Linked DNA regions of Homo sapiens: all the other regions are linked to region 1. Evidence: fine-mapped expression QTL. A gene starts in region 1. Each other region holds a variant in brackets. All regions are shown on one strand. Distances are from middle to middle.

Region 1 (2,500 bases):
GTTCCCCATTATCTTACCACACCTCACCTTGTCAGCTGTATCTCTTACATCATACTTTCATCTAACCTTATCAATCACTTAACCCACCCTTGCCTTCTCTGCTGTAGGCCAATGCTCACAGTTACTCTCTCTGTGTGGAATGTCTATTGCTGGTATTTCTCTCTTATCCATCCTTTACGTTGGTTATCTCAAATGCCTCCTTGCCCTAAAAGCTTTCCCCAGTTCCTCGTCTGGGAATAATTATTGCCATCCGTGCGAGATTCTCTAACGCTTTGTACGACTGCTTTATTTCAAATTCTGCTTTATAGTTCTTTTGTGTACACACACAGATTGTTTCTCACGTTCTATTGAAAGCTGCTTAGGGGAGGAATTGTATTCTATTTTGTTAATCTCTGCATCCTTTCGGCGCCTAGTAAGAGTCTTGTACGAAACAGAAATGTCTCTCCTTCGTAAAATTCCTCATCGGGAGCTGGGACTGTGAATTTTTGTAACGTTTAAGAACTATCTGTTATTTAAGAACAAACACTCTGCTTAACTTGTTTAGGGTTCACTAGAGCGAGTAAGACCTTTTTAGGGCACGCCGTCTCGCTGGTTGTCACACACGCATGGATCGCTGCCGGGACCCTTAGGTTTGTCTGCAAACACGTGGGTGATAAGCGCTACCCTCCAGGCCCCTCCTCTGTCCACGGTGATTGGCGGACCAAACGTTCCAATCATCCCTCCCCGCCTCTTTCGGCAGTAGCCAATCAGAGACCCCGAGCGCCTCCTGACTACTAGACACTGTTTACTAACAGATCGAAGCTGGGGAATAAGGGGTGTGACCGTTCTGGGGAGGTCAGGGAAGGGAAGGTCTTGACTGCGAGTGCGCACCAGAGGAAATGGGCGGGGCAGAGCTTTGGGTCTCACCAATCGGAGTGGCGGCGCTCCTCCCTCTCCTGCCTCCCCGCCAAGCAACAACAATTCGAGGAGCGAGGCGGGGAGGCTCGTGAAACGTCACAGCGTACTGCCCAATGGGAACCGGCGTTGGCAGACGCGCGCGCCCTGTGTCCAATCAGCGAAGGCGGCTCGAATGGCTCCCTTACCTTGCTGGCTGTGGGCGGAGCGGCCTGAGGAGGCGGCGGTGGAGCAGGGGGCGGTTTGGTTGCGCGGTACTAGCGGTGCCCGCCGAAGGGGGAGGAGGCGAGGAGCGAGCCGTGCGGCCAGAGCGGGAAAGAGACTCGTCTTTGCGTCCGAGTTCTGGAGCCGCCGCACCCCGACTCCTGGGGCCGCGGCAGCGGCTGCGAGGGGACGGGCGTCCGCTGTCTCCTGGGTTCCCCTCGTAGCGACCCGCGGGATCGGAAAAAAAGGAGAAGATGGAGGAGGAGGGTGGCAGCAGCGGCGGCGCCGCGGGGACCAGCGCGGACGGCGGCGACGGAGGAGAGCAGCTCCTCACTGTCAAGCACGAGCTGCGGACTGGTGAGCGACCCCGCCCTCTGCCGGCCGGGCCCGGCGCGGGGGCGCGCCTGAGGGCACGCGGGTGCCCGCGCGGGGCTGGGGGCGCGGGGCCGCAGCCGTGGGCGCGGAGGGGCGGGCCTGGGGCGGGGCGTCGCGGTCGGGGCGCGTGCCCCGGGGGTCCCGGGAGGTGGGGGCGCGCCTTGGGGGAGGCGGCCGAAAGTTTTCCCCAGCCCGGGAATGAGCGGCGGGCACCAGGCATCGGGGCCAGCGCAGCCGCCGACCGCTGCCCGTGGCACGCACCTCCGAGGATGTCGCTGCTCCCCCTTCCCGCACAGGTGACACACGTGTGTCTGCGTCCTGTCAGGGCGAAAGGTGCGCCTGCCTCCGCGTGGGGCGAGCGGCGCTTTGTTTTGGAGAGTGTCTCCCTCCTCCGCCCCTCTGGTCCCCGCGATGGGGGGTCCCGGTGGGGCTCTGTGGAGCCATCCCCTAAGGTGCTGGGGTCCTGTAGGAGATAAACGGGAGGTTTCGCCTCGGGCTTTTACCGAGTCCAGTCTAGAGACAGGAACAGGAATCGCCGGCTCCAGGGATTGAGTGCCTTTATTCTCACTTATCATGAAATACTATACTTGGCCTTGAATTTCCTTCAGAGGTCCCTGGAGATGATGGCTTTAGAAATTTAAAGCTCCAGGTAAAAGGAACTAACGAGCAGGCTTCAGCGCTTACGTTCTAATGTTTGAGATCACTAGCGTTGTCCTAAGCTTTATAACTAATTAAATGTATTCGTGGTGTAGGTTCAGGTTGTTCATTTTGGAAAATGCTTATTCAGACCAATCAGTACAATTTGGATTTATATTCTTGGAGCCCAGTCTCGTATTGTAGATATATTAATACTTTTTTCTCTGAACAGATAGTACATTTTAATGAGTCGTTCGTTATTACTAGATATGTTTGTGAGCGTTGAAGGTTTTTGACAGAGCTGCTTTGGCATATTGGGATTTTTTTTTTTTTTTTTCAGACAGAGTTTCGCTCTTGTTGCTCAGGCTGGAGTGCAGTGGCATGATCTCGG
Region 2 (2,846 bases), 66 kb before region 1:
CTGCCTGGGGCAAGTAATTCAGCTGAGCTGAGAACCAGAAAATCATATTTCAGGATTGCAAAAGTCAGATTCCCTGCCCCAGGCTAGGAGCACAGGTAAAGGCTGGGAGAAGGACGACACAGTGTGAGAGGGGACAGAAACCGGAAGAAGCAGTTTCCCCTGGCTCCCTGCCAGCCACTTCTGCCCGGCGTTCCCTGCCTGGCCAAACCGCAAACAGCCTGAAGGCAAGGGCCAGACAGCCCGGCCTCATCCCTCTGGCCCAGGCCCAGTGTGTTGGGGCAGAGGCCAGAAGGCTGCAGTCTGAAGGAAGACTCAGGGAGAACGGGGTGTAGAGGGGGCAGGTGCAGCGAGGACAAGGTCCAGATTCTACAGCATGACTTGACTTGAGTTTCTAGCTCCAGTTGGCAGCTCACAGAGTTATCAGAAAATGGACTAAGGTCCTGGCATGGTGGCTTACGCCTGTAATCCCAGCACTTTGGAAGGGTGAGGCAGGACTGCTTGAGGCCAGGAGTTCAAGACCAGCCTGGGCAACACAGCAAGATCCTGTCTCTACAAAATATTTAAAAAATACCCAGGCATGGTGGCACATGCCTGTGGTTCTAGCTACTTGGGAGGCTGAGGTGGGAGGATGGCTTGAGATTGGGAGGTTGAGGCTGTAGTGAGCCATACTTGTGCCACTGCACTTCAGCCTGGGTGACAGAGGGAAATTCTATCTCAAAAAAAAAAAAAAAAAAAAAGAGTATCATCAAGGCCTGACTGAGAAGAATGTACATCGGCCAGCTTTGCTTGGATGTGGGCAGCCTGTACCACACTGGGGTGTTGCATTTCTGGAATTGTTTATGTGGAAAAGGCCATGGATGGATGCCAGGCAGTCAAGGGGTGGAGTGCAGTGGCTATTTATTTCTGCCCTACAGGGGGTGGAATGTGGCCCCCAAAGAGATAAATCCAAGTCCCAACCCTCACCCCATACCTGTGAATATGACTTTATTTGGAAAACGGGTCTTTGTAGATGCAATTAAGTGAAAGATCTTGAGATGAGATTATTATGGATTAATTGAGTGGACCCTAAAACCAGTAACATATTTTTTTGTGTGTGGTGGAGATGGGGTCTTGCTATATTGCCCAGGCTTGTCTCAAACTCCTGGGCTCAAGCAGTTCTCCCACCTTGGCCTCCCAAAGTGCTGAGATAACAGGCCTGAGCCACCGCACCTGGTCTGACACGTTTTTTGTTTTTTCAATGTGTAGGGCATTTGTTTGTAGGGAGGTCACAAGCTCTGTGTCCCTTGTCACAATGACCCCAGATTCCTATTGGGTGTGTTGTAAACAGAGGAGGCATTCTTCGGGCCCCCTGCTCTGAGCACACCCCAACACATGTAATTATAAGAA[G/AAGAAG]GCACAGACATGACAGGAGAAACACAGAAGGGGCCATCCTGTGAAGATGGAGGCAGAGATTGGAGTGACGCAGCTACAGTCCAAGGAACTCCAAGGATTTCCTGGGGCCACAGAAGCTGCAAGAGGCAAGGAAGGATCATTCCCTAGAGGCATCAGAGGGAATATAGTCCCCCTAATACATTGACGTAGAACTCCTACCCCCCAGAGCTGTGAGATAAGAGATTTCTGTTGCTTTTAGCCACCAAGTAAGTTGGGATTTGTTGTGGCAGCCCTAAGAAACCATTACGTGCCCAGCAAATTGGAAAAGTGTCCCCCAGTACCCAGTGGGGCTGTCAGTCACTATCTCAGACCTAGGTGACAATCAAAATAGCCCATCCTCCTTAGCACAATGCTTGGGTTGAGGATGGTCACATGACCCCAGCTAGCCAACCAGAGTTATCCTTTGAATTTGTTTTGTTTTGTTTTGTTTTTTAGAGACTGTGTCCTGCTCTGTCACCCAGGCTAGAGTACAGTGGCAAGATCTCGGCTCACTGCAGCCTCTATCTCCTCGGTTCAAGCAATTCTCCTGACTCAGCCTCCTGAGTAGCCCAGGCTCGGCTAATTTTTGTATTTTTAGTAGAGACAGGATTTCACCATTTTGGCCAGGCTGATCTTGAACTCCTGACCTCAGGTGATCCGCCTGCCTTGGTCTCCCAAAGTGTTGGGATTACAGGAGTGAGCCACTGTGCCCAACCTTAACCTTTGTATTTGTATAGCTGTCGGGAAAGAAGTATTTCTTACCTCTGAAACTGCTAGACACAGGGACAATGTGAGCATAGGCTGCCAGTGGTCATTTGTCACCCCACAGAGAGAGCTGGCTCGAGAAGGAAGCCAACAGAGAAGAAAGCAGAGAGCCAAGAGTAAAAAGAGGCAGGGCTTGACGCTGTCATCCCTGGCCCTACAAGCAACCCTATCTAAACACAGTTCTATCTCTGGACAAACAACCTTACCTAAACACAGATCTATCTCTGGGCTTTTCTGCCAGTCACTTCCCCTTTTCTGCTCAAATCCATTTGAGACAGGATCGCAGCCATTCCAGAGGGCAGAGTCTGCAGCAAGTACGTGTTTGAAATGCTTGTTCCCCGGTGCCGTAAAGAAATAGTACTTGAACATAAATTTAATTTCCTCAGCAAGGCCATTTTTACACTTTCTGCAGAAAGGGTACACTCGCCAGTAGTTGTGCCCCATGAGTATATAGAACAAAGGAGACAGGGTCATTTATAACCTGACTCGTCCACCCTACTGCTGTGTCCAGTTTCCATTGGCTGGAATGGGACCTCAGATCCTGTATTTGTCCCAATTGGCTGGCAACTTAGAACCTTTTAAAAGAGGCAAAGGCAGAGGAGAACAAAGGAAGGAGGAAGTAACTTGTGCAATGTTGAGAAAGGTAAAAACACCTTCAAATAAGGAAGAGGAACAGG
Region 3 (2,846 bases), 120 kb after region 1:
CAGATGATCCTCCCATCTTGGCTTCCCAAACTGCTGGAATTACAGGCATGGGCCACCCACACTTGTCCGTTTTTTATTCTGTTCTTTTAAAAAAAAAAAAAATAGAGACATTGGGTCTAAAAATAGACATATGGTCTCGCTCTGTTGCCCAGGCTGGAATGCTATCATAGGTTGCTGTGGCCCCAAACACCCTGAGCTCAAGTGATCCTCCTGCCTCAGCTTCCCGAGTAGCTCTAGGACTACATGTGTGCCACCACACCCAGCTAATTTTTTTTTTTTTTGAGATGGAGTTTTGCTCTTGTTGCCCAGGCTGGAGTGCAGTGGCACGATCTCAGCTCACCGTAACCTCCACCTCCCGGGTTCAAGTGATTCTCCTGCCTCAGCCTCCCGAGTAGCTGGGATTACAGGCATGTGCCACCACGCCCGGCTAATTTTGTATTTTTAGTAGAGTCGGGGTTTCTCCATGTTGGTCAGGCTGGTCTCGAACTCTTGACCTCAGGTGATCTGCCCACCTCGGCCTCCCAAAATGTTGGGATTACGGGCGTTAGCCACCACTCCTGGCCCAGCTAATTTTTAAAATTTTTTGTAGAGATGGGTCTCACTGTGTTGCCCAGGCTAGTCTTGAACTCCCAGATTCAAGTGACCCTCCTGCCTCAGCCTTCCAAAGTCTAGGGTTACAGACATGAGCCACTGTGCCTGGCCCCTAGTGTTTTTCTGTATGCAATTTTGATTTCCATTTTAAGAGATTATTAAGAACTTTCTCATATTCTTAGCATTGAGGAAAACAATATTTCTAAGTTTAGAAACATTTAATTCAGGCTGACATAACTGAAAACATGAAACAGAATTCATGCAGATCAAGCACCTCTTATATGAGTTGGATAGATTATTTGTTATATAGCTGAAGTGTTTTGCTATAGAACTTACAAAAAAGTAAGTTTTATAAATGCAAAGTAAAACAGAGGGATCTATAAATGTTACTTAATTGATTTTCTTTGCTTATTTAGAACTAAAGTTTGAGCCTAGTGCAGTGGCTCACACCTGTAATCCCAGCTACTCTGGAGGCTGAGGTGGGAGGATGGCTTTAGCCCAGAAGTTTGAAGTTGCAGTGAGCTAGGACCACGCCACTGCACTCCAGCCTGGGTGACAGAGTGAGACCCTATCTCAAAACAACAACAACAATAACAACAACAAAAAACAACTAAAGTTTGAGTAAAATTAACCTATGATCTTCAACCTTTATGTTTAAGAGCCTGTTAATCAACAATTCTTTATAAATTTCCTATTTTATACATGGTGTGCTGCACAAATACCTATAAATACATAAAAAGTGAAAAAAAGAGTTAGAGTATAGGTATATAAAGACAAGTAGGAAATAGCTAGAAAATATCAGTCATGTATAGGTAAGTACAATGTAAACATAGGTGTTGTAGGATGAAAAACAAGGAAATGACAGGGGATCTGGTTAGTCAGGAGAGTCTTCTGAAGCCGTTAGGAAGTGATGGACAAGAATTGGCTATGAAGGCACCTGAAGGTCATCTAGAGTGAGAGTGAACTAGGAAGAATAGAGACATGAAGAAGCACGAGTCAAGAGGGAGGCCCTAAAGAAGCTGACCCAACAAGGTAGACCCT[G/C]TGCACAAGGAGAACAAAGACGTGGTTGGAGAGGTCCAGAGAACGCAGCAGATAAAAGAATTTCCATTTTCCCTGACCAATCACCAAGAGCCATTACAGGATCCTGAGGAGGGAAATGCCTTAAAAAAAAAAATAAATAAATAAAGGTAGACGAGAAAGACTGCCCTAATTCATTTTTTTGTAAATTATTTTAAAATTTATATTTCTTTGTTTTTGCAGTTGGGGATTATATATCGTGATATTAAGCTTGAGAATATTCTACTTGATTCTAATGGCCATGTGGTGCTGACAGATTTTGGTCTGAGTAAGGAGTTTGTGGCTGATGAAGTGAGTATATTTTAATTTGAAGTTAGTAATAACAGCATGTAAACAAGGATGAAAACTTAGCCGTAGAATAAACATTTAGCAGAAAACTGCCCTGTGAATTCTGAACTTTTGTGCAGATTTGTCCATGGAAAATGTAGAGATTTTTAGTTTAAAATTCGTATGGAGCCGTCCTGTTAAAATTGCGGTAAACCTTGATGGGTATATCAGAATTCCTATTTATTTAAAAAAGAAAAAAGACACTATGCATTTAACTTTCCCCATAAAATATGTAAAATATAACTGAAAAATCAAATAACTCTTTTGGCCCTTCAGGAGAATTATGGCTTTGATAGTGGCCAATAAAGAATCATAAAGCAAAGTACATACAGTTTACATTGTGGTAACAAAGTAGGACATGCTATGAAGGCCCTTTGAATTCGCTTGACAAGAATGACAGAGATCTACTAGACCCAATTTTTAAATAATATTGCTGGTTTTTGCTCAACATGAATTAAAATATGGTGGCTAATGTGCAGATTTTACATTTGGAGAACTTTAATTTTCAGTATTAATTAGAATTTGTTTAATATTACAAATGCATTTAATGACACTTAAAATTGTACATCTATTAGTTGTAATTAAGTACTGTTTATGTAATGGTTGTAATAGAAGTTACATTTATTTCTGCACTACTAGTTATTCAAGATAACTAAGTAAATTTGAATGTTAGTTTCGTTTCTATCTAGGAAATTGTTGGTATAGAATATGAAATCATACTAAAATTTTTGTAGTGAAGGACTTTGTTGTTATAAAAGACATCATTCTTGGATTCCAAATTAGGTATATCTATTTCTGATTGGTTTTTGGAGTATATTGCTAAAGCAGTCCTAGGTGAGTGAGATAAGTGC

What was found. PIP is the estimated chance that this variant, and not a neighbour inherited with it, causes the effect.
Region 2: its variant is fine-mapped to the expression of RPS6KA5 in whole blood (INTERVAL, PIP 0.92).
Region 3: its variant is fine-mapped to the expression of RPS6KA5 in whole blood (INTERVAL, PIP above 0.99).

Annotation. Positions count from the first base shown.
Region 1 is chr14:91,059,287-91,061,786 of GRCh38, reverse strand. RPS6KA5 (ribosomal protein S6 kinase A5) reads left to right here and starts at 1,146. Exons shown (of 17, transcript NM_004755.4): 1 at 1,146-1,455. The coding sequence starts at 1,353. It also overlaps a transcript of DGLUCY not described here. RefSeq lists silencers at 644-773, 994-1,053, 1,424-1,553, 1,624-1,693 and an enhancer at 836-1,416.
Region 2 is chr14:91,124,945-91,127,790 of GRCh38, reverse strand. The region is part of intron 1 of DGLUCY (D-glutamate cyclase); the gene reads right to left. It overlaps SNORA11B (small nucleolar RNA, H/ACA box 11B), which reads right to left and starts at 1,365; the gene lies at 1,239-1,365. The variant G/AAGAAG (reference allele first, on the strand shown) is at 1,387.
Region 3 is chr14:90,942,191-90,945,036 of GRCh38, reverse strand. It overlaps RPS6KA5 (ribosomal protein S6 kinase A5), which reads left to right. Exons shown (of 17, transcript NM_004755.4): 5 at 1,852-1,959. Among named protein-coding and RNA genes, the nearest start is that of LINC02321, 120 kb to the right of the region's middle. The variant G/C (reference allele first, on the strand shown) is at 1,633.